4 linked regions of the Homo sapiens genome follow. The protein of the gene in region 2 purifies or fractionates together with the protein of the main gene of each other region. This does not show direct contact. Each region holds a gene or a part of one and is shown on either strand. Other genes may lie near its edges.

Region 1 (7,026 bases), on a different chromosome or scaffold from region 2:
TTATTTCTCAAATTTGAACTCATCTTCCTGTTAAGAGCAAATCACTCCTAGACTCCTAGGTTTATTTTTAAATGCTTATAAAAATATGTTTTGGAGGAACTGCATCTTGTAAGATCTATTTTAATGTCTGTGACTGAGTCACCAAACGTTGCTGAAACTGGCACAGCTCCTTTGAACTCCCAGGGTCAATTCACATGAACTTAAAATATTACATAACAAAACAAAGTTGGACCCTGATTGTGCCCACTCTGGAGGTCACAATGAACAGACCCATTCCCACAGCCAACACTATCATATGGATGTGGAGTTATCCCACGAGTACTAACTCTGGCCCAAGGTAAGATGGCCACGAAAAAGAATAGGCCTAACAGGCCATGTACAGTGGTTCACGTCTGTAATCCCAGCACTTTAGGAGGCTGAATTGGGCAGATCACTTAAGCCCAGGAGTTCGGGACCAGCCTGGCTAACATGGCGAAACCCCATCTCTACTAAAAATACAAAAATGAGCTGGGTGTGGTGGTGTATGCCTGTAATCCCAGCTACTCAGGAGGCTGAAGCAGGAGAATCACTTAAACCCGGCAAGTGGAGGTTGCAGTGAGCTGAGATTGCACCACTGCACTCCAGCCTGGGTGACAGAGTGAGACTCTATCTCAAATAAAAATAAAAAAAATAGGCCGGTTGTGGTGGCTCATGCCTGTAATCCCAGAACTTTGGGAGGCCAAGGCAGGCAGCTCACGAGGTCAGGAGTTCGAGACCAGCCTGGCCAACATGGTGAAACTCCATCTCACTAAAAAATACAAAAATTAGCTGGGTGTGGTGGTGGGCGCCTATAATCCCAGCTACTTGGGAGGCTGAGGCAGGAGAATGGTTTGAACCCGGAAGGTGGAGGTTGCAATGAGCCAAGATCATGCCACTGCACTCCAGCCTGGGTGACAGGGCGAGACTCTGTCTCAAAAAAAAAAAAAAAAAACAGGACCCGGGCACGGTGGCTCACGCCTGTAATCCTAGCACTTTGGGAGGCCGAGGCGGGCGGATCACGAGGTCAGAAGATTGAGACCATCCTGGCTAGCACGGTGAAACACTGTCTCTACTAAAAATACAAAAAATTAGCCAGGTGTAATCCTAGCTACTGGGGAGGCTGAGGCAGGAGAATGGCATTAACCCGGGAGGTGGAGCCTGCAGTGAGCCGAGATCATGCCACTGCACTCCAGCCTGGGCAACAAAGCGAGACTCTGTCTCAAAAAAAAGAGGAGTAAGAGAAAAAAAATAGGCAAACTAAGTGATCTTGCATGGTGTCTGACACAGAGAGATTCATATTAATGAGTACGCCACACTGGATGGGGGCGAGCGGTGGGAGGACAAAAAAAAAAAACCCCATCCCAACTATACCCTCACCAAAAACCAGAAAAAAAATCAGAAAAAATGGATTATGAAAGTATGGGGTGACAAATCCAGTGAAAGCCCTAAATAAATGTAAAATGCCTAATGCAGTGGTTCCCAAACCTGTCTGCACATTGGTAACCCCTGGGGACCTCCAAAAATATCGATGTCTATTCCCAATTCCATGTATTTCCATCTACACTGGAGAGACCCAACGTCAGGATATTGAAAAGCTTCCCCGGATGATGTTTTTTTGTTGTTGTTGTTGTTGTTTTAATAGATGGAGTCTTGCTCTGTCGCCAGGCTGGAGTGCAGTGGCGCAATCTTGGCTCACTGCAACCTCCGCCTCCCAGGTTCAAGTGATTATCCTGCTTCAGCCTCCCAAGTAGCTGGGACTACAGGTGTGAGCCACCATGCCCAGCTAATTTTTGTATTTTTAGTAGAGACGGGGTTTCACCACGTTGGCCAGGATGGTCTCAATCTCTTGACCTCATGATCTGCCCGTCTCGGCCTCCCAAAGTGCTGAGATTACAGGTGTGAGCCACCACGTCCGGCCAGCTTCCCCAGATTATTCTAACAGAGTTTGGGAAGTGCTGGCCTAATGAAACCTTCCATCTGAGGGCTGCTGCCACACCCACGGATTCACACCATTCACCTATGTTTTCTTTCTTACCTTCATAACAATCTAAGCGACAAGGTGCGAGCCGTATGGCCTCCCGAAAGTGGATTATTGCTTCTTGGACTCTGCCCATGTTCCTAAGTGCTGCTCCCTTAAGTAGCAGAGCTTGAACACTATTACTGTTCAGCTGAATGGCCTTGGCTCCTAAATAGAGGGCCCGGGAGTAGCGTTTGCTATAGAAGCTGTGACAGCTGGAGAAAAAAAAAAAAAAAAAAACACAAAAACCCCAGAAGTTATCCAAGAGAAGACTACAAAGAAAGTTGATCCAAAAATCATATTGAAGGCCCTGAACATAATCCTTATTCCAAACCACACTTATAGTTTTAACCTAAGATATTAGTAGAAAAGCAAAACAAACCAAAAAATCCACTATTTATTTTTAAGGGGAAATCTTGATATGGAAGAGAAAAATTATGAAAAAGAACCTATGATCTGGATATTAGTTATTAGCAGAGAGGCATTCAGAGAATTTGTAAAGCCAGGTTAATAAACAAAGGAGCATCTTCTGGCCCCATCACTGATGGCTCAGTACTAAGCACAATGCATTCACCAACTCAGTTAATGCTTAACCCTAGAAGGAGAGGTTATTAGCCCATTTTCCAAATGAGAATACAGACCTAGATAGGTAAATAATGCATCCAGAGTCATAAACTATTATTTGAATCCAGGGCTGATTATCCTTTTAAAAAAAAAAAAAAAAAAAAATATATATATATATATATATATATATATATATATTTATAGAGACAGGGTCTTGCTACATTGCCCATGCTGGTCTCAAATTTCTGGCCTCAAGTAATTACCTCTTTTTATTTTTATTTATTTATTTTTGAGACAAAATCTCACTCTGCCGCCCACCTGGAGTGCAGTGGCACGATCTTGGCTCACTGCAACCTCTGCCTCCTGGGTTCAAGCAATCCACCTGTCTCAGTCTCCCAAAGTGTTGAGATTACAGGCATGAGCCACCATGCCTGTCCAGGTGATTACCTCTTAAACCTGTGCTTTCAATTTATATTCTCTTCAAGAGCAACCATTATCTCTTAATCTACTGACAACTGGGGAGAAAAGAGAATGCATAATCATACCCAGAAACCACCCACGGTTCTGCATGCTGATCAGAGATATTGAAAAGGCGGCATCCAAGGTTCTCAACATCCTCTAGCCGCCCTTCTCGTGCCAGTAGGTAGCCATATACATCCATTCCTAGAAGAGAAGGACATAGTGAGAAGAGGTGTTTTAAGAAGAGAAGCAGGGGTCCCACATACAGGAGTAGCACCCAACATCAGACCCCATGCTGAGGCCCCAGCTCCTGCAGGGGCTAAGCCCTTTCCACCATCACAGGCTCCTCCAACTACTATTTCCAGTTTCCTACAAAGTGACTATTAAAATGCAAAACCCAGGTTGGGCACAGTGGCTCACACCTGTAATTCCAGCACTTTAAGAAGCCGAGGCAGGTGGATCACGAGGTCAGGAGATCGAGACCATCCTGGCTAACACGGTGAAACCTCATCTCTACTGAAAATACAAAAAATTAGCCGGGCATAGTGGCACGCGCCTGTAATCCCAGCTACTTGGGAGGCTGAGGCAGGAGGATCACTTGAACCAGGGAGACAGAGGTTGCAGTGAGCCGAGATCACGCCACTGCACTGCCTGGGTGACAGACTGAGACTCTGTCTCAAAAAAAGAAAATGCAAAACCCAGCTGGGCGTGGTGGCTCACACCTGTAATCCTGGCACTCTGGGTGGCAGAGGCAGGAGGATCACCTGGGCCCAGGAGTTCAAGACCAGCCTGGGCAATATGGTGAGACCCTGTCTCTAAAGAAATTTTAAAATATCAGCCAAGTGGCCAGGTGCAGTGGTTCATGCCTGTAAACCCAGCACTTTGGGAGGCCAAGGAGGGCAGATCACGAGGTCAGGAGTTCGAGACTAGGCTAACAGGTGAAACCCCATCTCTACTAAAAATACAAAAATTAGCTGGGCATGGTGGCGTGTGCCTGTAATCCCAGCTACTCAGGAGGCTGAGGCAGGAGAATCGCTTGAATCAGGGAGGCGGAGGTTGCAGTGAGCCAAGATCGTGCCACTGCACTCTAGCCTTGGCTACAGAGCGAGACTCCGTCTCAAAAAAAAAAAAAAAAAAAAAAAGAAAAAAAAAAGAAAAAAGAAGGGCCAGGCGCGGTGGCTCATGCCTGTAATCCCAGCACTTTGGGAGGCTGAGGCAGGTGGATCACGAGGTCAGGAGTTCAAGACCAGCCTGGCCAAGATGGTGAAACCCCGTCTCTACTAAAAATACAAAAAATTAGCCAGGCACAGTGGCAGGCGCCTGTAATACCAGCTACTCGGGAGGCTGAGGCAGGAGAATTGCTTGAACTCAGAGGGCGGATGTTGCAGTGAGCCGAGATTGCACCACTGCACTCCAGCCTGGGCAACAGAGTAAGACTATGTCTAAAACATAAAATAAAATAAAGTAAAATAAAATAGAAAGAAAAAAAAATTAGCCAAGCACAGTGGCACATGCCTGTGGTCCCAGCTACTCAGGGGGCTAAGGCAGGAGGATTGCTTGAGCCCAGGAGGTCAAGGCTGCAGTGAGCTATGTTTGTGCCACTCCCGCCTGAGTGACAGAGTGAGACCCTGTCTCTAACAACAAAACCAAAACCAAAACCAAAGGAGGCCGGGCACGGTGACTCATGCCTATAATCCCAGCACTTTGGGAGGCCGAGGTGGAAATTCAAGACCAGCCTGGCCAAGATAGTGAAACCCCATCTCTACTAAAAATACAAAAACTAGCCAGGCGTGGTGGCACACACCTGTAATCCCAGCTACTCAAGAGGCTGAGGCAGAAAATTGCTTAAACCAGGAGGTGGAGGTTGCAGTGAGCCGAGATTGCACCACTGCACTCCAGCCTGTGAGACTCTGTCTCACAAAAAAAAAACAAAAAAAAACAAAAAAAACAAAAAACCAAAGGAGCAGAACAACCTACCTCACAATTTGAAAGCCTGCTATTTTCAGGAAGTGCTTGTCCTTCTATCCTGTGGTGTGATACACAGCTACCCTAACCCAACCAGAAAAGGCCCAAAAAAGGCATCAACTAAGGTCTCTCTTCCCAGAGTTCTAGACCATCAGAAATACACTGCTGAAAAGCCAATCAGTCTCAGAAAAAGTTGGCCTATTCCAGAAAAAAGCTTGTAGTTCTATCCAGAATGCAGTTCATTAAAGATCACTGCCTCGGGCTGGGTGCAGTGGCTCAGGCCTGTAATCCCAACACTTAGGGAGACTGAGGCGGGTGGATTACCTAAGGTCAGGAGTTGCAGACCAGCCTGGCTAACATGGTGAAACCCCCGTCTCTTCTAAAAAAATACAAAAATTAGTTGGGTGTGGTGGCGGGCGCCTATAATCCCAGCTACTCGGGAGGCTGAGGTGGGAGAGTCACTTTAACCAGGAGGCGGAGGTTGCAGTGAGCAGAGATTGTGCCACTGCACTCCTGCCTGGGCGACAAGAGTGAAACTCCGTCTCAAACAAACAAATAAAAAATCACTGCCTCTCCGCAGCCCCCGCTTTATTCTCACCCACATTCTATAAAAAGGGACCTATGCTCACTGTTACCCATCTCTTGCCACCATTCTCTTCCATCCCTTGCTATCCCTTCAGATTCCCATGAAAATTCCTCTCAAGCCAAGATTACTGCAATGCTCCTGCTAGCCCCTGGGCCTGGGTCTGAGATTCCAAGCTGCCATTGCCATTCCAAGCTGCCAGCTGTTGCCAGACTAGTATTTCTAAAACATCATTTTCATCATGGGTGCAGGCAGCTTGGAGAAGAGGAATAAGCACTTGAGGTGAGGGGAGATCTTGTGCAAACAAATCCATCCTTCTAGATCTGCTTCCTCATCTAAACGCTTGGGATGGCCCCTTCCCAGCTCCATCATTCCCCTGGCTTAAGAGCTCATAAGACTGTTTATTGTCACAAGGCCCTGTTTTTCTGATGGCCTTTTTTGGACCTTTACAAATAGACAGCATATCTATCTGACCTTATTTCCCACTATTCCTGAGAACTCACTGCCAGTGTCCTAACTGCCATCTGTTGGAGGTCCCTGTGAAGATTACCCTTCACCTGCAATCTTTTTCAAGATCAGTGATTTTTCTGTTGTTCACGCCTAATTACTGCCTTTAATCACCTTATCCCTTTCTTATTCCTTTTTAATTATACTAAGGACATGGCAAAACAAAATTCCCTAAAAGGATATTATGGTTTTAGGGATGCCATCCAAATTCTCAGTCAGGCACACCATAAATTTATAAGTCATAAGGAGGAGCTATGACCCCCTCAAAAGAAAAAAAGCCAAATAATGATCTGTGGGGAGAAGACACTTGAATTCAAGCAAAAACAGCTGCTCAAATGGTATTACCTAAGCGTTAGAGACATGTGTCATGACCTAAAAAAAGTAAAAGACTAGTATAAGTTTTATACACCATTTCTATGAAACTTGGTATCGAGTATTAATGCTGCATATTCTCCCTATTATCTCTGATCCCCCCCAACAACAGCCACTGTCTTCCTGCCCCAAGAATTACTTACCTTTTATCAGATAAGGATCCAACATCTGTGCCTGTTCAAACTTGAGGACAGAGTTTTTATTGTCTCCAGCTCTGAAGTACAGATCTGCCAAGCTTCCCAATAGGTCCACGTTATCTCGCAATAAGGATTTTTTCTCTAGTGAACTTTAAGATATTTATTAAACATTGAACCTTTAAATCTATTATAAATCCTCTTAGTTGCTGAATCTGGATGATTGGTCATACAGATACTATTTTCTTTTGCATAAATATAAAATTCTTCGTAATAAAAAACTTTAAGCTTATGACTTTAAAAAAAGTTATATAGGACAGGATAGCAAAAACAAAGAATAAAGCAGAAGTCTCTCAGTACCAACAAATAACTCTGTGGTTGCAGTTCTTCAGAACACAACATACGCT
Region 2 (7,026 bases):
TACTTTGGGAGGCCGAGGCAGGTGGATCACGAGGTCAGAAGTTCCAGACCATCCTGGCTAACACGGTGAAACCCTGTCTCTACTAAAAAATTAGCTGGGTGTGGTGGCATGCACCTCTGTAGTTCCAGCTACTCGGGAGGCTGAGGCAGGAGAAGTGATTGAACCCGGGAGGCAGAGGTTGCAGTGAGCCGAGATCGCACCACTGTACTCCAGCCTGGGCGACAGAGACTCCGTCTCAAAAAAAAAAAGTAAAAAAATCAGTGAAACACTATAGGACCAGATTTTTTTTTTTTTCAGATTTAAAAAATCCAGGCTGGGCATGGTGGCTCACACCTGTAATCCCAGCACTTTGGAAGGCCGAGGTGGGTGGATCACCTGAGGTCAGGAGTTCGAGACCAGCCTGGCCAACATGGTGAAACCCCATCTCTACTAAAAATACAAAAATTATCCGGGCGTGGTGACAGGCACCTGTAATCCCAGCTACACAGGAGGCTAAGGAAGGAGAATCACTTGAATCTGGGAGGCAGAGGTTGCAGTGAGCCAAGATCGCGCCATTGCACTCCAGCCTGGGGGACAAGAGTGAGACTTCGTCTCAAAAAAAAAAGATAAATAAATAAATAAAAAATCTGTTTTACTTGTAAAACATACAAACAACCTAAATCTTTTTTTAAAAAAGTGAATTAATGCCCAGTAAACTATCAGTAAACAATACTTTGAATATTTTCTTTTTTTTAAAATCCTGAAAGTGTAATATTAGAATTTCAGTACTGTTAGGTTTAGTATTATCAACTGAAATTTAAAGAAACTTTAGTGTGTTTGTTTAAAATCTAAATTATACTATAATTAATGAAATGAGGTTAATATTACTGAAGTTGTCCAACCTATTTGATAATTCTTTTTACAGGATCTAGGGTGGTGATGGTGGTGGTGGTGTGTTTTTTGTTTTTTGTTTTCCAGGGCAGAGGTTGTGGGGAAGGAACTTTTTATTTTAAATAGGACTATAGAATGAATTAACTCAGACTATAGAATGAATTAACTCAAACTATAGAATGAATTAACTCAGGCACATGAGGGTTTATTGAGCATAAAACACTTTCATTTGTGGATGAAAATCAACCTGTTAATTCAGTTAGTCAGTGTTTGTGCATTCTGGGTCCCAAAGCCAAATGTATACTTCTCATCTAACTGCAACACTGTTAATTCTGGAGATGGATTGATATGAAGTTCTTTTGTATAAGACTGAAACCCAAATTCAAATTTATTGAGTTTCAGTAGCTGGAAGAAAATGCTTGCTGATTAGGAAAGGAGCTGTTGAGTAAGAACATGCATTTGCGTATTTTGGATAGCATTAATTTAAAACAATTTACATTACTGTGGATGCCCTTAATAATATGTTTAGGTGTAAAGGAAATGAGTCAGTGCCTTTGAGCTTGGTTTCTATGAAGATACGAAATTTGAAAAAATGTCAGACATCTATTTTAGACAGATTTTACACTATTTAAAAAATGTAGCATTTTTTTTGTCGTGATTTGAAGGGATCTCATTACATTCTTAACAAAGCAAGCTGTTAGACAAATCTGGAGTTTGATTATTTTTATTGATTTCTTTGTTATTTTTCTTAAATACAAATTGGAGATCCTTTGTTCAATGTTTTTATACAAAGAAAAGGAATTATTCTGCCAAAATTTCAATTTAGCTCAATTAGATCAAGTGTTTAGATTCTATAACATGAGGCATTCTGTACATACATAGATAAAAAGCTTCATAATTTTAACTCAGTTTTTACATAGCAGAACAACTGCCAAATGGGGGAATTTATCTTACAAAGGGAATTGCAGTTTTCTTACTGTAATTATTCTGTAAATACTTTTTCGTTGAGATTAGTTTCAGACTTTTGGTGAACATGTCTTGATTCCAAGGATCATTAACTTTGATATGGGTGAAATGATTATGGGGAAAACTAAAAAATTTTTTCAATGATTTTCAGTAGCACTTGGCTTAAAAAACAGTTATAAGTTTGGAGTAGAGAAAGGAAATTTACGTATTTTGCAGATTTGGAAACAGAAGCTTGAAGATCTTAAATATCTTGTCCGGAGTCATTCCTGGAACTAAGATATAAGATTCTGGATCTAAATTCCTACCTTCTCCTACATTCTCTTTTTTTATGTCAGCATACTTTTGCCCCTCAAACTGGTTGTTGTTAGAAAGAATAAGACCTAATATTTGATAGCACAACAGGGGGACTATAGTTAATAATAATTTTTTTTTTTTTTTTTTTTGAGACAGAGTCTTGCTCATGTTGCCCAGGCTAGAGTGCAATAGTGCACTCTTGGCTCACTGCAACCTCTGCCTTCCAGGTTCAAGCGATTCTCCTGCCTCAGCCACCCAAGTAGCTGGGATTACAGGCATGTGCCATGACGCCTGGCTAATTTTGTATTTTTTTTAGTAGGGACGGGGTTTCACCATGTTGGTCAGGCTGGTCTCAAACTCCTGACCTCAAGTGATCCACCTGCTTCGGCCTCCCAAAGTGCTGGGATTACAGGTGTGAGCCACTGCGCCCAGTCCTATAGTCAATAATAATTTAATTGTACATTTAAAAATAACTAAAAGAGTATAGATTGTTTGTAACAAAAAGGAAGAATGCTTGAGGGGTTGAATACCCAATTTTCCATGATGTGATTGTTACGCATTGCATGTCTATATTAGTGTACCCCATAAACATGTACACCTACTATCTACCCACAACAATTTAAGAATTTAAGAAAAATCTGGTTGCTATAAACTATTCTTTATTCTTTGTCAGTGGTAGTTGATATCTTCTCCTCTCATGTTAGAATCCTGAGTTATTTTCACTTCTTCCCACTTTATCACCAGTCATCAGTTTGGGCCTTTGTCTGTTTTTCTTGCCTTGGAAACTCTGGCAGATCTACCTTTTTCCATTTCCGTTCTCACTATTCCACTTGGTCCTTCATAATCTTTTACCAGGATTACTTTAATGACTTCCTACCCACTCACCCTTTTCAAATTTGTTCTATACCGTAAAAAGCTGTCAAACTAACATTTTAGGAAATGCTACCTTTTTTTCCACATACTTCCCCTTGCTCTGACCCTATTACAGTTTTCTATTGGTCACTCACATCAGTGCATATTTAATACATATTTATTTTTTATGGTATTGGTATGGTATAGTCTTCATGGTTTTGTTAAGCAGTAGAAGAATATGAGTATCAGGCCGGGTGTGGTGGCTCACTTCTGTTATCCTAGCACTTTGAGAGGCTGAGGTGGGCGGATCACGAGGTGAGGAGTTCAAGACCAACCTGGCCAATATAGTAAAACCCCATCTCTACTAAAAATACAAAAATTAGCTGGGCATGGTAGCGTGTGCCTGTAGTCCCAGCTACTTGGGAGGCTGAGGCAGAAGAATCACTTGAACTCAGGAGGTGGAGGTTGCAGTGAGCCTAGATCATGCCACTGCACTCCAGCCTGGGTGACAGAGTGAGACTCCGTCTCAAAAAAAAAAAAAAAAGAATGTGAATATCTATGTGATATGATACTCATCTCAGATAATTTGTTGTAAGGAGTTGAGGTTTAAATAAATACATGATTCCTCCTTCAAGTAATTTATCATTCATTTGAGGAGACCACATAGACACTGAGAAATTTAACAATAGAAAAATAGTAATAATATATATTTTTCTTTTTTTCCTACAGGTTCCTGTTGCATGTAAATCATGTCCTTGTGGTTACATATTTATTAGCAGAAAACTTTTAAATGCAAAACACTCAGAGAAATCACCACCTTCTACAGGTAACTGTGAGTTTAATACATTTTTAGCTTTTTGATGTAGAAATGTAAAGTTAATTTTTGTGAAGTTTCTATTTACATTTTTTGTTGAAGTTAAAAGTTTAAATCTATTCAAGTGTTTTTGGCTTTTATTAACTATTGGAATTAGTTTACGACGTTGGTTTCATGTGCATTCCATTTAAATGTTAAGTCCCTTACAATGCTGATAACGCTTGTAACAAATTTTTTATTTTTGAAGGTGGAGAACCATTGAAAGGTTTTAGCAAGGGAGTGACCTGATCTGATATAAAAACTTTTTAAAAAAATAGCTTTAGTAATAATTGACATTGAGTAAATTGGATGTATTTGAAGTGCACAGTTTGATAAGTTTTGACATATGTATATACCAATCAATCACCACAATCAATATTATGAACATTCATCAATTTCAAAAGTGTTCTAGTTCCCTTTGTAATCCCTCCTTCCTGCTACCTCCACCCCAGGTAACCACAGATCTGCTTTCTGTTACTGTTCGTATTTATGGAATCATATAGTATGTACTCTTTTTTGCCTGGCTTCTTTCACTGAGTGTAATTATTTAGGATTCAGCCATGTTGTATGTACCAATAAGAGTTCATTCCTTTTTATTGCTTAGTAGGAGTCTTTGTATGGAGATTTGTTTATCCATTCTCCTGTTGATGGACATTTGAATTTTTTCTCTCATAATGGTGGTAAAATTTGCAGCAACTTTTAAGTTTTGTTTTTTTTTTAAACTAGTGACCGTTGAAAAATATAGCTTGGTTTTGGTATGAAAAACGTTTTTAGACATGTTGACTATGTTTTACAGTTCCCTGACTGAGGATATCCAAATAATGATTTTGTTTGAACTTGTTGCTTTTCCATTAACGTAGACAAATTGGATTTATTCAATAGACATATTTATTAATATTAAAAGATACAATTTTGTTACTTATTCTTGGCTAAAAGCAGACCTTCATATGGTGGTGACCTCGAAATAAGAGTAGGTTCATTACAAATATATACTGAGCACCTGCTATATGCTAGACACTATTCCAAGCCTTGGGCACAAAGCACTGAATTCTACTGTTAAGGCAGATTTACTGGTGTCATGGAGCTTATATTCTTGTGGGTGGGAGATAGACAGTGAACAAATATACAGAGAAAATGTAACCTTGTGATAAATGCTTTATAGTCCTATGAAGTGACTGGAAGGCTACTTTTGATTGGGTGGTTAGAGAAGGCCCCTATGAGGAGGTGACATTTAAATGGAGTCTCAGTGGATAGAAGGGGCTAGCCATGATAAGATCAGGGAAAAGAACATTCTTGACAGATGGAAATAGCAAGTGCAAAAGTTCTAAGGTTGGAAAACATTTTTTATATTTTAGGAACAAAAAAGACCATTGCGATTGCAGTGTAGACAGTATGATTAGAAGAGTGGAAGATGAGTTCACAGGGCTAGGCAGAGGCTAGATTGTATAGGGCTTTGTAAACCAGAGTAAGAAGTTTGGATTTTGTTTGTAAACTGTGAGGAGAAACTGTCCCTGAGATGGGGTGGGATGAAGAGAGGAGAAGATGGCATCCTCTGATTTGAGTTTTAGAAAGATCATTCTAGCTGCTGTGTAGAGAATAGTTTGTAGGGGTACAAATATGGAAGTGGATTATTGCAGTAGGCTAACTAAGAATACTGAGTTAGACAAAGACTGATGATAGTAGCAGATGATTCAATAATAATTTTTATTTATGTCTGAGAGGTTTATTTATCTTAGGTCTATATAGAAGTGGCAGGAAACTTGTTTAGTTCCATTTCTGTCACTGTTTCAGTTCTCTTCTCATCATGAGAATGAACATAATTCACTGGTTCTTAAAGGCGGTTGCTGGGTTGGCTGTATAGGATTCATGCAGAGAACTTGTTAAAAATGCATTTCTGGATCTTACTCTCTGAGAGTTTGGTTTAGATAAAGGAACCCTGAAATGATGATTCACTCGGTAGCTATTTTGGGGTGGCGTGTCAGCTCAGTGCTGAGTTTCTAAAAATGAATAAGACATGGTCCTTGTTCTTAGGGAGACAAAGTGCTTATTTTTTTAATTCAAGTATTTTTGAGCTCCTTTTATGTACCAGTGATTCAGATGAGAAATGAGTTAAGAAAGTCAACAAAGATAAAAGAAGGAACAGGGCCAGGCATGATGGCTTATGCCCATAATTCCAGCATTTTGGGAGGCCGAGGCAGGAGGATCGCATCAGCCTGGGAAGTTGAGGCTGCAGTGAGCTGTGATTGTACCACTGTATTCTAGCCTGGGTGACAGAGTGAGACCTTGTCTAAAATAAAATGAAAAAAAGGAGGAACAGATGATACAAGTGTTAATGAGTTGTTAAGTTTAACCAGTTAAACCAGAGGGAAGAATTTAGAAGATTCCCAGATCTCTGACTTGGATTGCTAGTTAAAAGAGAATATAAGAGGGAAAACAAGCTGTGGGGGAAAGATGAAGAATTTAATTTTGGGTATAGAAACATCATCCGTGTAGATTTTTTTTTCAGTTGGACATATAGTCTGCAGCCTCAGCTGCAGGTAAAACTTTTGAGCCATCAGTGACTAGATGGTAGTTGTCATCATGGAAAATGGATGAGCTCGCGGTGCAGAGTTTGTAAGTTAGGAAGAGGAAGGCATTCAGGGACTAAACTGTGACAGACACCAATTTTACAGACAGGTCAGATCAACTAAGAAGAAATGTCAGCTGTAGGAGAAAAACCAACAGCACAATGTTATGTAAGTCATGGCGATGAGTTTTAAGAAGCAATTCATTATTATTTTGTATTTGGAGTTTCCTGAGATTTCCTTGTTTAGTAAGAGTGGTCTTTTGACTTTGAAGTGAAGATGAAACATTGAAGCCCAGAAATCCCTGCAGGAGGAGGAAGAACCAGCAACAAAACCAAACCAGAAAGGAAGGAGAAACATCAAGGATAGGCTGTGCCATAGAAACCACAGGAGGAAAAGATTTTAGGGAGAGGATTAAGAGTATTCAAAGCCTCAAAAACAGTTTGGTAGAGTACAGACGTGGGGGTCAGAAAACCTGGCTTCAGATTCAGATTCTGTCCCTTTCTAAGCAGCCTAGTTAACCTCCATGAGCAACTGTTGTTTGTTTATAAGATAGATTTATAGTACCAGTGTTAGAGGATTGAAGTACATATGAAAATGTCTAACATTTGCAAAGCATGGTAAGTT
Region 3 (7,026 bases), on a different chromosome or scaffold from region 2:
TCTGAAGCAAATAAAAATGAATGTATTGATTAAAAACACGTGTATACAATACATACACATAATTATAAACACATACATTTATTTGCTAGATATAAAAGGATGTTCACTGTAAATTTTTAAAAAAATCTAAAATAGATATAAATTTTCTGATAATTAAACAAATATAAAATTATAAATATGTGGAAATAAACTTAGTAAACATATATACTAAAATGTTAAAAGGAGTGATGCAGAAGAGTGGGAGTACTGCAAGCGACCATTGTTTCTCTTTTTGCTTAGTACATTTCTTGATTTATACAATGATCATCTGTTTAAACTATGACGTAAGACATTTTAAAACTAAATATTTTTACATATTAAACTTAAGATTATTTAAAATTCAAGTCTCATCGTTATCAATAATATCTTTCTGAACTTCTCCAAGTGACTTTTTAGATCTTAAAATCACCTCATTAAAAAGCAAAAATGAGTAATGAACTATATTCTGCTTCTCTCAAAGTTTAGTTTCACATGGCATTTGAGCTTTGATAACCACTACAGCAGCTATTAGGAAAATTTTAAATCACTGGGGATAGAGGGAGCATTTCTTTTGTTTTAACTAATTTAAAGAACTACACTTAATGCATGTACTTAATCATTTTCCTTTCTCATTGAGCCCAGAATTTAACATACCAGTCAGATTCAATTTAGGAATAGGCAATGGCTCTGTTGGAACAGGATGGTACGAAAACAAGGTAAACATTCCTCGTCCTACAGGAAGAGCCATAGTTCGCTGACACAATTGGAGCAATCTGTAATTAAAGTAAAAACCAACATATGAAAATGTTTAAAGCAAAGAGCAATTGAAATATCATCTGTAAGTATTTCAAAAGAAGGTGTACTGTATAAGATGAAGTTGTCTCAAAGTAAATTCATACACAGATGTGAGTGAACTACCCAAACATGATTATTTTCATTTTAATATTCTTGTTCCTATTACACTCTTAGGGAGAGACATATTTCCTCTGTTTTGTTTCATATTTACATTGAATGAAAACCACCTGGCCTATAAACCCAGCCGACTCTCTCTAGGCATTCAAAAAAAAAAAGAAATTTAAAATTCCACTCCGATGGATGCTAACCTTCTCAAAGGAAAATACAGTACTTTTGGGGTTTTTATCACTGTGTTAATTTCAGTCTAGCTGTCCTCAGTACATGTGGGATCCTCCTCCCATCCCTTTTGCCAATACAGCCTCAGAAGTACCATTTCTGTGGCCTGTACACAAGAAAAGAAACAAGGTCCTTGTGTTAGAGGTGAATGGATTTCATGGTGTCTCCAAGGGAAATACAGATTGGTTTCACTTACATGATGGCTAGATTTATAGGACTAATACCATTATGTATCAGGTATGTTCAAGGTTAAAATGGTTTCTGTTGGCTCTACTGTGAAATTAATACACCACTCTTCAACTTCTTCCTATGTTAAAATAGCTTAACATTCCATATAGCCACTTAAAAAAAACTAACAGAAATTTTGGAAGTAGGGCATTTATAACTAAGAAACGCCTATACAAGCTATATCTGAAGACACAGAAATATCCCTTCAGAGGCTGACAACTGACAAACATTTTCTCTGCAGACAAAGCTATTCATAAGCATACTCCCTCCTTAACTGGACACACATAACTGCTTTTCTAGCTAACTGGAAAGAAAAATTTTGCTGTCTTAAAGATTCTCTGGGAACACAACCGCAACATTAATTTGGGATCAGGAAAATTCAAAGCCAAGAGGCTGTTGCAACCCATAGAATTTTTTTAGAGGAAATCTTACACATAATTCACTTCAACTTTGCGCAAGTAACAAAATTATAATGAGAACAATATTATATCCCCTGAATATAAGATGCCACTGATAAGATGTATCATTATTTCATGAGAAACTAAGAAAGAAAAAGCACTGCCAATTAAACTATGACACCTGTTCACTGAAATACACAACTGATTTCAGAGATATTAAAAAGTGAAAAAACTTGCATCTTAGAATCAATGAACTCTACTACTAATAATGGCTGACTGCACTGAGCTTTACTATGTATTGAGCAGTATTCTAAGTGCTATGTAAAAATAATTCACTTGATACACAGCACCATCCCATGAAGTATGCCTACTTTTACAAATGAAGCAACTGAGGCAACAAGAGGTAAAGTAATTTAACCAAAGTCACCCAGCACAGCATGGCCATGCCTGGCTCTAGAGGCCATGCTCATAAATCCTATGCTCTAAACTCAACTTCTGTCACTCCATCTTTTTATTCACAGGTGACTAATAACTGGGTACATGTGGAGAGGAAACAGTTAATAGGGAAATCACAACTAATTCAGATCTTCAGCAGCCTGTGGCTAAGTGTGGGTGATGGTTCCCCTCAAAACAGTACCATAAAAAAAGTAAAGAGAACTAGAAAACAGTGGCAGATGAATGATAGATGATAGAGACAAGCAGATAAAAGAACAGGAGAGAATTTTAAAACAGAAGTGTCCCAAGAGAATAGCTCTGGAATGTCATAGGCATGTGAGTCTTATAATGTATCAAGGGATGTATCCTGTGCAGGGGAGTGGCAGAAGAAAGGCTTATCTATTTTTATTTGGAGTATCATCTATCATATCCAAAAAAAAAAAATACTCATACAAGTTTAAACTACACTAAAAACCCCACTAACCTCAAAATCTATTCCTGATCAAGACACAGAAAAACAAGTCCAGTGTTTTCTTTGTTTGTAAATTCTTAAGGTAACTATCAGGCAAAATAGTTTTACATTCACCTTTTCTAAAGAGTAAAGTGTTATATGTATTTCAAGAGGAGGACGATATGAAATACAACAATTACGTCCTCAAAAGCCAAAGACATTTTGCTAACACACGTGGTTTGTTGAAGTTGGATGAAAACTTAAAACACAGGGCATATTTTCACTTGAAAGTATCTTTTAAATCTCTTTAGGGTTTTAAATGCTAAAAACTTGAAGGAAAAACAAATATACACAAGACACAAATGTAACAATGAAACATGACAAGAGATAGTGCACGTGTTTTCTTTCACCTGTTTTCCTTTTCCTCGATGAACTCGTGGTCACTGAGCTCTGGGTACTGCACTACGTTGACACGGACAGGATGCGCACTCTGAAGAAGCCTTCGCACATCCTGCACCCTTAAATCTTCACTCCATATTAATGACATGACCTCGTGATTCATGTCATTCATGCCGTCATCTTCCTCCTCAGTTTCTGTTCCTGAAGGAACATCTGATGAGAGCACCTGAGTAACAGACTTTATTGTAATAATAATTTCAAAAGCAGTTAACATGCACTTGCTGAACATGAGGATATATAGGCTGATGTGTCTTGACTATACTAGCACAGAGAAAATATGTTTTCCAAAGCAGGCATGGGTTGGAGCCGCAATGTATACTGGGACTCTAATCTACAAATCTTTCTAAAAAGTACTATATTGCTGGCCGGGTGTGGTGGCTCACACTCTGTAATCCCAGCACTTTGGGAGGCCGAGGTGGGCGGATCACCCGAGGCCAGGGGTTCCAGACCAGCCTGGCCAACATGGTGAGGATGATTTAAAAAGATAATTGGAGAGTAATGAAATAATTTAACTTTCTACTTGCAGGATTCCTAGAACTCATTTGAAAAAAAAAACAGACTTGATGATTGATGAAAGACAGTATTTCGGGAGGGATAGCTTAAGACATGTTTTTAAACAACTCTACTGAAAAAAACACATTTTTTCCCTGGGGCTGCAGTTTTATGTGATTAAACAAATATGTTTACACCTATTTAAAAGGTTAAATTCAAAAAATTCAACACATCAAAAAATATGCAGTAGAAAATATTTATATATAATTACTCATCCAAATTCAGGATATATGTGCTCTCCCTTTTCCTATGTAATAATTACAAAGTGGTTAATTACTAATATGGTACAAGTAGGGAAATAGCCATGGTAGTTTCCATGACTACCCTCAGGACTTGTCCTGATTCAAGGCAAAGAAAGATCCAGGCACAAGACAGAACATTCACAAAATCTCCTGCTCCTAATGCTCATCTTAACAATTAATAAGACGCGTACAATTACAAACCCCGTCTGGCATATAATATAAAAGACAAGCTAATATATATACTTAGAAAAAGCCTTAAAGGAAAATGAAGAACATTTCTACTTTATGATTTTATTTAAGGCTAAAATTGGAACTCTGAACTTTCTATGTTGATACTCACAGACTTCCCTTTGGGTAAGTTTCCTTCGCAGGCCTGCTTGGAAAGATCCTGACGTCCAATCAAGAGACAGACAGCTTCTGGCCAGTCTGAGGCAGGCTGCTCACGACAGTGATAAATTGCATCTCTGATGGGAAGAGCAATTCCAAAGGGAAGAGTTTCCAAATCTCTTAAAGTGAATCCTAATGGTTAAAGGAAGAGAGAAAAATTTTAATTTAGACTCGCCACTGTCCCAATTATCCTGACTGAAGTTGGCAACAATATCTATCCTGACAAATAAGTTCATTTTATTCATCTTACTACCAGACTAATGTCTTGACATCAAGGACTAGTATAGGAAGTCTCTTTGAAAGAACTTGTAAAAACCTGAAGAAAAAAAGACAATCTAATAGAAAAATATAAAGGACAAAAAGACATTTCCTAGAAGGGGAAACATAAATGGGCAACATGCATATGAAAAGATGCTCTACCTAATTAGGGATCAGGAAAATGCAAATTAAAGCTACTGAGAAATATAAATGTCAAAGCCAATCAATACTAAATGTTGGCAACTATGTAGAGCAATAATAATTCTTTTTATTCTTTTTTTTTTTTTTTTTTTTTTTTTTTGAGATGGAGTCTCGCTCTGTCGCCCAGGATGGAGTGCAGTGGCGCGATCTTGGCTCACTGCAAGCTCCTCCTCCCGGGTTCACGCCATTCTCCTGCCTCAGCCTCCCGAGTAGCTGGGACTACAGGCGCCCGCCACCATGCCCGGCTAATTTTTTTTGTAATTTTTTTTTTAGTAGAGACAGGGTTTCACCGTATTAGCCAGGATGGTCTCGATCTCCTGACCTCGTGATCCACCCGCCTCGGCCTCCCAAAGTGCTGGCATTACAGGCATGAGCCACCGCGCCTGGCCCAAGCAACAATAATGCTTATCCATAGCCAATGGTAGTGTAAACTGGTACAACCACTTTGGAAAACAGTTGGTATGTATAGGTCAATCCACCCATTTGATCCATCAACAGCCATATAGAAACTTATACCCATGTACAAAGACACAGGTATAAAAATATTCATTAGCAATACTGGTTTGTTATGGAAAAAAAAAAAGAGATGGAGAAAGGGGTGAGTCCGATTGTCTATCATCAATAGAATGGGTAATTAAATTATGATATGTTCAAACAAAGTAATCTCTATATCAGAGAAAATGAATGGCCCGCTGCTACTGCTACATGAGTCGACATGGATGAATCTTTAAAAAACAAAGTTGAGTGAAGAAAAAGGAACACATATTTACATCTATATATTTTCAAAACTACATAAGACCTAGCAATTTATAAAGATGTAAAACTATAAAGAAAAACAAGAGTAAGGTAACACAAATGTAGGTAGGGCAGTGGTTCACTATAACATTGGGGTGTGTGACAGGAGGGGACCATCCAAGAACAGATATGTAAGGGCCTTCTACTATGCGGGTAATATTCTATTTCTAGGGGTGGGTGACCAGTACATCAATACTCACTTTAGTACCATTCTCTAAACTAAACATATACGTTTGACATATTATTTTGTAAGTATACCATATTTCATATTTAAATTTATCCTCAGGTTAATTAAATCATGTTTTTCTTATGATTTTCTAAATTTCATAATACTATGCATTATTTATAATATAAAAAGTCGATTAACTATTGAGGCAAAAAATGTTTCCTTATATGAGAATAACACTTATTAAATATTATGCAATATACAAATGGATAGAACTAATCCAATATTTTTCAGCATAGGTATCCTGTATGTATACTATGCAACAGTTATTGTCATTTTTAAGGTAAAATGCAAAAAAAAAAAAAAAAAACCTGTCAGAAACTTCATTTAGAACATACTTTAGATAAGACTTCAAAAACATCTTTTAATATTCATTAAAACTTTACTTTTTAACATACATCCCATATAACATCCTCATTTTTAAAATCATGTCTTCGTGGCAGTAATTTTTGTTTTTCAGTTCTTTGTGAAAAAAAATTTCTTTGGTATTTTACTTAATTTAAAACCTAGGAGCATAGGTTTGGGGAATAGGGAATATAGAACTCTTTTCCTTCCTCTTCCTCTTCCCAGTTCAATGTTCATCTTGGTGCCTGAAATCCCTTCAAAAGTGCATTTATCCTTCAAAAGTATACCCTGAAATGTTTATATTATTGCTTTTAGACTTTGCCAAAACCACCCATTTCTGATATCTGAGTATCACAATGATTTCAGGTGTGTATGTAGGTGATTAGAGTTCTCCATTCTCAGAGACCAGCTTACATAGCCACAGCCTCAAATGTTCCAATTAAATGGCAAATAAAGATTCCTTATGCATCAAGATAAAAAGCTGGTATCCCAAATATTATTATATGAAAGTTGTGAGATTGTCGAGAAAAAAAGAATATGGCTTGATGAACCATAATCTCAATCTTGTGAGGCCTTTTCACAAAGCCAGAGCCCCTCTCTCCTCATGCCTTCCACTTCTAGCTAGTCTGGAGGAAGCACGGCCTAGTTAGGAGGTAACAAAGAAGCTCTCACCTACATTAGTCATCCAGACAACCAATCTTTCAGCTAGACTAGAAACAGATGTAGAATGCCTGAAACTAAACCTATAAGAGAATAAAACATAAAGTTATTAAGCAGAACAGTAAATAATATTGTTTTAAGTGTTTGACATAAAAGCACAGTCTAAATAAAAGTCACCTGTTTTCCTCTTGTTCTACTTGCAACTTCTGGGGGGCTAAAAGGCAACAAAATGAAACTTAA
Region 4 (7,214 bases), on a different chromosome or scaffold from region 2:
TAAATGACCATCTCTCATATATACTTAGCTATCAGAAGAATAGAAAAAGACAACAGTGTCTGAATGAACACAAGGTATTTTAAAATAAATGGGTGAAACAAGGTCTAATTTAACCCTGTACCTAATCTTTTATGTCAACGGGAGACTTACCTTTTATAAAGAAGGCGGCTGTCCAAGGTGACAACCAAAAAAGAAATAAAAGAACACAAACACCACTAAAAAGGTAGCTAGCTGTAATACAGTCAAATTATACTAAGCTTGGAATTAGTCCACGTGGCACCTAGTTTCAGCTGTGTCACTCACTAGCCATGGATCTTAGACATATCACTTAACCATTCTAAATCTCCATTTCCACATCAGTAAATTCCCACCTTGGAAGGTCAAAATGTTGCCCAAGAGCTCTATGACTGCCCCGTTGCAGCTTCTATACAACCATTGACAGTAAGGAAGAAAAGGCCTCACCACTGCACATGCTCCTCCAAGACCCCTCCCCATTTCCACACTCAGCTAAGCCACCATGACCCTGCCTTATCTCACAGCTCACAGCACCCTTCACTCCTGGTTACAACATCCCCTGGATTTGACCCTCTCTTTTCTGAAACCACTCCTGCCATACCTTACTTCTGAAACCCTTCCTCTGTGCTTTCTGCAGCTCATGGTCAGGTGTCATCATGAAATTAATATCTTCGTACTTTTCTCTGAAATGTGCCTCTCACCTGAGGACAATGCTTCCCTGCAGCCTTGCTAGGTGGTGGCCATTTTGTATCCCACAGCCCCTGTACTGCTGCTTTTGGGCTAGGAGATGAAGTAGGTGTCTTCCTTGATGCTTGATGCCATTTCTTCTCTTCTTGTAAATCTCCTAACTTTGAATCACATGCAATCAGACCATACCACTCGCTATCCGTCTTAATTGCAGTCCTCTACAGACCCCTAGGCCATTCCCCTCATTCCTTAAAGATCTGGATACCTGGCTTGCTCATGCCTTCTAACAACACACTCATCATCATTTTTGGTGATTTCAAGAGCTATGATGTCCTGGCTTTTCAGCTCTCAATTACCTCTCCTCCAGTGATCACATCTTCTACTGCACTCAGCCACTCCCAGGGTCACACCTCCGGCCTGGTCATTACCAACAACTGCAGGGCCACCAAAATCTCCATTTTAAACTTCCCACTTTCCATCCACCACCCCTCTTTCCAGGTCATCTCTACAACACTCAACTCCAATTCTTTGACCTCACCAGGATACAGTCTATTGATTCTACCACCTGTTCACTGTCCCTCTCCCCACACATGCCTTCACTTCCCTCCTTCATCAGGTTAGAACCCAAAGTTCAGAAACACAATCACTCCTCTTGCACGTAACTTCAACTCTCTTTCATCTTTGCCTTGCTTTGTCATACTTGCAAAACGACAATCCTGGTTAAACCCAACCATGCCTGCACCCACACAGCCAAACAGAACGGAGAGAGACACATACAACCTTATTCAACCAGTGTCTCTCAAATAATAACACCGATCTCATGTGGGTCTTAACACTGACTGGCAATCCTATTAGGTTTCCCAAGTCCACCTGCTTTGTTAGCTTTTTCATACCTCTTCTTTCTCCTCAAACTTCCAATATATTCTTCTCCATCTTCACCCATAAACAATGCCCTTGCTTCTTCCTTCACTGAGAAAATGGATGTAACAGTGCCCTCTATCACGCCTACCCATCTGATTGCACGGATGTGCCTCCCGTCTACCTTCCCTCCTACTTCTGTGACGGTACCACCTGCTGCTCTCTAGAGCCACAACAGAGTTTCAAAGCATCCCGGCAGCGGAGGGAGACTAGCTAGATTTCATGGAGGGCCCTGAAAAATTAGACATCAATACCCTGGCGACTGGATCATGGTAGATAACATGGTGCAGACTACAGTCTGCAGGGTGCTAAGATTTCCTTATCACCTAGTTTCCAAATTTGGCTCTATACAACTCTCACATGGCCAGATAACTCTCAAGCCAGAGGCGGAAAGATGCACAGGTGAAGGTTTCCTTACAAAATGGCTGGCAGGTAATAACTCTCAGCAGAAAGTTGGGTACAACTGGTTTATACTCGATGAAGTTTTATGTGAACAAGAAATGCTGATAACACCCATGCACGTTCTGTCTGGAATCCAATGCATGCCTTCCTTGTCCAATTTAGAGGTATTTTTAGTGGAGGGTGGTTATCCAACCCGTACTATAAAACGTGGACAAGAGAAGCCAGGTTCTTAAATATATCCTGTGTGGCAGCTACATGCAGGCACATTTGCAGCTGAAGTTTGACAATAACTCTTCCTACTGCTATTAAAACTGTAAGCAAACTTAGGGCAGGGTCCCTGCATCTACCATTATGTCTAGCTCATGAGCAGCACATAGTGGGCTTTTTTAAAAAGTTCATTTAACTAATAAACCAATGAGTGAAGAAGACTTGGGGAAGCAGGATTGCGTGACGGTGTTAAGCTGTGTGAAAACTGTTACTTTAGCCATAAAAGTACCGAAAATAGCACAGACATCACCTTTCGCATATATACTTAAAGTTTACTGCCGTCCTGGGAGGCAGGGAAGGGGTAGCAGGTGGCCAGCCATGTCTGCAGAAGGGGAAACTGAGGCTCCGGCCGCCTGTGGCCCGAATGAACAGGCTCGGGCTCGGTGTTCTTGGGCCCCCCGGGAGCAGACCCAGCACAGGCGGGCTCCCGCCGGCTCACTCACCTCGCCAGCTGTGTTGGCCAAAGCAATGAGATCCCGCTTGGGCGACCAGACCAGGAAAATAATCTCCTGCGGGAGCTGCTTCTCTCCCACCACCCGGAAGGATGGGAAACAGGTCGGAAAACGCAACATGGGGACGGCCCTGCAACGACACCCCAGTCAGAGGCCGGCAGGAGCCCCCGGCTCTCCACGAGGAGCCCCGACCGCGCCTGTACCTGCAAGAGTCCCCACCGGCAGACTAACACGGCCCCAGTGGCCTCTCCCCTCCCTCTGCCGGCCGCGCGCCACAGCCTCCAGGCCGCCCCGCCCCGCCGCTGTCGCGCGCTCCAGGCACTTCCGGCGTCGGGACTGCCTCGCGAGAGGAGGAGGAGGGGCGGGGCGCGCACCGGTCTTGGGGGTGCTGAGAGCCAGAAGGGGCGGACAGGGACGGGGCGCGGTGGGCGGGGCAGGGAGGAGCGAGGGGCGGATCGAGGTGGGGGTAGGATGGGGCCCGTGGGCGGGGCAGGGAGCAGCGATGGGGCAGAGCTAGGAAGGGTGGGGCACGCGGGCGGGGCAGGGAGCCCCGAGGGGCGCGGAGAGGGAGGGAGCCGCGCGCCGGACCCAGGTGCTGGTGGGATCGCTGGGCGCCGGGACCTGAAAGGGCCCGAGAAGGGCGGGGCAGGCCCCTGCGGCCACACGCAGGTCTTTTGGGAACCCGTGTGTGCACGTGTGTGGGCATGCTTGCATACCTTTCCCGTTTTCCCGGAAATTCTCTGCTGTGGGCAAAGGGACGGTAGGGGTTTATGGGGTAGGCTTCAGCGACAACGGGGAGATGAAAAAGAATATGAACTTTAGGTCCTGATCAGCTGGCGCCTCCTCTAACAGTTACTAAGCGAGTAGTTCTCATGTCAGTCCTGGTGGGTCAGTATAGAATTTTAAAAGTCCCCCTGTCCAAGCAGCACCCCAAACCAATTAGAAGAAAATTAACCCTGGATGGGCCCAGTATTTACTAAAACTCTTTGGGTGATTCCAATTTGGAGAGAAGAGGCGCGTGCCCTAAAACCTCCCTAACAGGCAAATAATACTGTGACATCTCATCCCATTTAACCCTCACAACTTATTGGTAGTTGCAGCACCGTCATAACGAATAAAGAGTGTGGGCTCAGGGCCGGGCGCGGTGGCTCACGCCTGTAATCCCAGCACTTTGGGAGGCCGTGGCGGACGGATCACAAGGACAGGAGATAGAGCCCATCCTGGCTAACATGGTGAAACCCCGTCTCTACTAAAAAATACAAAAAAGTAGCCAGGCATGGTGGCGGGCACCTGTAGTCCCATCTACTGGGGAGGCTGAGGCAGGAGAATGGCGTGAACCCGGGAGGCGGAGCTTGCAGTGAGGCGGAGCTTGCAGTGAGGCGGGGCTTGCAGTGAGGCGGAGCTTGCAGTGAGCCGAGATTGTGCCACTGCACTCCAGCCTGGGCAACAGAGCCAGACTCCGTCTCTAAAATATAAAAAAAGAGTGTGGGCTCACACACGATTTCTTCTATAGGTACTTGGGCATTTACTATGTGGAGGAACTGAGGCTACAGCAATGCATGGGACGGGAACTCTGCCCAGAGGCTCACAGGCCAGCCTGGCAGACTTGTAAATCAGAACTCATCTGATGTTGCTTTATGTAGGACACATTTAAATGAGTCAACCTGTTGACAGTTCCCACAGCTATGACCTCCCTAAGAGAATGTGACAGTACCATCCTAGGGTTCTTAAACTTAAAACCTATGGTAGAAAGCCATCTACTTTTTACTACCTTTCACTTGTTCAAAGAAGAAACAGACGGCAGGTCCTTTAACTTTCAACAGGCCCCATCTTCTTGACCTCTGTCTGGATCTAGCCCCTGGGAAGTAGATGACGGAGGGAGACTAATTCATTCAGCATCAAGTAACTATTTTGTGCCAAGTACTGTTCTTAATCCTTGACTTTATACCTACCCTGCTTCCTGTCACGGGCTTTGCAGCCCTTGCCTTTGCCACAAACAACTTACCAAGTGCCCCCAACTCTTCCAGAATCAACATTTCTAAGGTAAAAATGCATTTGCCTTTGTTTTTCACAAAATGCATTTTCAGGTGTTAGTGTTTTGGGGCAGTTATAATGGATCACCTGGTGGGGGTCTAGTATCTATGCACATTAACCTTCTTACGGAAATTGAATGTCCATTTTCCTGGAACTTACCTGAATACAAACACCCATACAGCACGTGAAAATCACTGTTCCCAGAGGCATAAACACCGTACTGCAAAGGACAGAGTATAACCACCTGCACATTAAGTCTTCACAGAATATAAATTTTCTAAGCCTTACAGCAAAGGAAACAGCCTAAGTGTGGAGTTCCAGATGTGGGCAGGAAACAGCAGAGTTTTATGCTGCTATAGACCAGGGGTGTCCAATCTTTTGTCTTCCCACATTAGAATCGTCTTGGGCTACACATTAAATACATTAACAGTAATGACAGCTGATGAGCTAAAAAAAAAAAATCACAAAAAAAATCTCACAATGTTTTAAGAAAGTTTATGAATTTGTGTTGGGCTGCATTCAAAGCCCTCCTGGGCCACAGGCTGCGAGTTAGACAAGCTTGCTATAGACCCTCATGTGTGTTGGTAGGCAGTAAGGGGCAGGAATTGTTCTTGGAAATGATCCAAAGTAGCCGTAAGACAAGAAATATTAACACATCGTGTTTCCAGCCTTTTCTTTTTCCCACTGCCCCATAAAGATTTTAGCTCTACCTACTCCGTTTTTTGCCTCCCCCATCCTTAGGAAAATACTGCAGAATAAAGAGAAAAAGGGAAGAAGGCTCAGGGATCGGCTATCAGTGCTTTTTAAGGAGGCAAGGGCAGGAGAAATAAATATTTACTTAAGCATGTTCATTATAAGGTTATTTACGAAAGTGAAAAAATGCAAACAACCTAGATGTCCCATCATAGATTTTTAAAAAATATATCTATCCTGAAGAATATTATGCAGACATAAATCGATGTTCACAGTATACTTATGAAAAAGCATGGGTCATAAAACAGTATGTACTTAAAATTCCATTTTCTTGAGGGAAATTTTTGCATGTGTCTGTAAGCCTATTTATGCAAGAACCTATCTTTGGAACAGTAGACAGGGAAGTTATAATAGTGATTATCTCTGGGTGGTAGGGTTAGAGATGCTTTTATTTTTCCTTGATTTACCTGGCTCATGTATTAACTGTAAAGTTAACAGGCAGCAACCTTTGTTTTCCTCTGTTTTTTTTTTGTTTGTTTGAGACAGTCTCACTCTTGTAGCCCAGGCTGGAGTGCAATGGCGTGATCTCGGCTCACTGCAACCTCTGCCTCCCGGGTTCAAGTGATTATCCTGCCCCGAGTAACTAACTGGGATTACAGGCACCCGCCACCATCCCCGGCTTTGTATTTTTAGTAGAAACGGGGTTTCACCATGTTGGCCACGCTGGTCTCGAACTCCTGACCTCAGGTGATCCACACCCTTCACACCCCCCCCCAACCCTTGGCCTCCCAAAGTGCTGGGATTACAGGTGTGAGCCACCGCACCTGGCCTGTCTTCTTTAAGCATGTGGAATATTTGGGCTGACTTCCTCTAGTGTTCTCCCACTCCTCCTCTCCACACTTGCAGATGAAGAAACTGACCCATCTATTCAGGCCTACCATCTTAGAGATTACCGGCTGTTTCACCTCTTCTAGTATCCAGTGGTATGAAGCAGTTAAACCAGGGATCTTGTAACTAACTGTTCCACCAAAGACAACTGGGATAAAACTCAGCCTCTCAGGGCTCTGAGATCTTGTTGCTCAATGTTGGTGCTATTATAGCCTCATCTTGCTGAGTTAACATTTATACTAAATTGCCTGAAATCAAATAGCAGAGATCTTATCTTTACTTTATTGCAATGACCTTCTTAGTTGACCCTTAATTTCAGCCCAGGTCCTCATGGTCCAACTAAAATCACATCAAATAAGTGAAACTGGATTTTCCTTTAGATTTTGTGGAAGCTGTCCTACCTAGAGAGCTCGAAGTGTATCTGCTTCTTCCATAGTATAGTTAAGGTGTGAGGCATAAAGCGGTATATTAAATGGCATTTCCGTTCACTCAGTTGGTATTTATGAGCACCTACTACCTAGATGGTGAAGAAATGTGTTAGCCTGGCTGCCTGCTTCCCATTAACTGAGGTCACAGGTGATGCGGCTGGTCATCTCTATCGCCGTAGAAAAGGCATGTGCCTAGTAAGCAAACACAATGATGTCCACAGGCACTGCCATCAACGAGCTTCTAATCTGTACAGGGCTAAACAAGTATATAAAGTCATTCTTATACAAGGCATGATTTAAGTACCATAAAAGAAGTATAAAAACAACACACAAACTGACATTTTTATTTCTCTGGCAACAGATGTACTACTCCAGTGGAGAGACCAACAGGGACATTGTGAAGGCAGTGGCAGCTGACCAGGACCCTTTG

What was found.
Region 1: the proteins of C16orf87 (region 2) and ANAPC7 purify together in Homo sapiens (affinity purification with mass spectrometry; 3 studies listed by BioGRID and IntAct, with this or other methods). This does not show direct contact.
Region 3: the proteins of C16orf87 (region 2) and ANAPC1 purify together in Homo sapiens (co-immunoprecipitation; 3 studies listed by BioGRID and IntAct, with this or other methods). This does not show direct contact.
Region 4: the proteins of C16orf87 (region 2) and ANAPC4 purify together in Homo sapiens (co-immunoprecipitation; 3 studies listed by BioGRID and IntAct, with this or other methods). This does not show direct contact.

Annotation. Positions count from the first base shown.
Region 1 is NC_000012.12:110,379,699-110,386,724, forward strand, and holds part of ANAPC7 (anaphase-promoting complex subunit 7), read right to left. Parts: intron 6,772-7,026; coding exon 6,629-6,771; intron 3,263-6,628; coding exon 3,145-3,262; intron 2,251-3,144; coding exon 2,054-2,250; intron 1-2,053. UniProt on the Homo sapiens protein: Component of the anaphase promoting complex/cyclosome (APC/C), a cell cycle-regulated E3 ubiquitin ligase that controls progression through mitosis and the G1 phase of the cell cycle.
Region 2 is NC_000016.10:46,821,168-46,828,193, reverse strand, and holds part of C16orf87 (UPF0547 protein C16orf87), read left to right. Parts: intron 1-3,711; coding exon 3,712-3,808; exon of another isoform or gene 3,809-3,814; intron 3,815-7,026.
Region 3 is NC_000002.12:111,818,168-111,825,193, forward strand, and holds part of ANAPC1 (anaphase-promoting complex subunit 1), read right to left. Parts: intron 7,001-7,026; coding exon 6,964-7,000; intron 6,870-6,963; coding exon 6,799-6,869; intron 4,434-6,798; coding exon 4,255-4,433; intron 3,299-4,254; coding exon of another isoform or gene 3,287-3,298; coding exon 3,072-3,286; intron 1,256-3,071; coding exon of another isoform or gene 1,234-1,255; exon of another isoform or gene 1,122-1,233; intron 792-1,121; coding exon 673-791; intron 1-672. UniProt on the Homo sapiens protein: Component of the anaphase promoting complex/cyclosome (APC/C), a cell cycle-regulated E3 ubiquitin ligase that controls progression through mitosis and the G1 phase of the cell cycle.
Region 4 is NC_000004.12:25,373,075-25,380,288, reverse strand, and holds the start of ANAPC4 (anaphase-promoting complex subunit 4), read right to left. Parts: upstream 3,027-7,214; 5' UTR 2,945-3,026; intron 2,872-2,944; 5' UTR 2,862-2,871; coding exon 2,733-2,861; intron 1-2,732. UniProt on the Homo sapiens protein: Component of the anaphase promoting complex/cyclosome (APC/C), a cell cycle-regulated E3 ubiquitin ligase that controls progression through mitosis and the G1 phase of the cell cycle.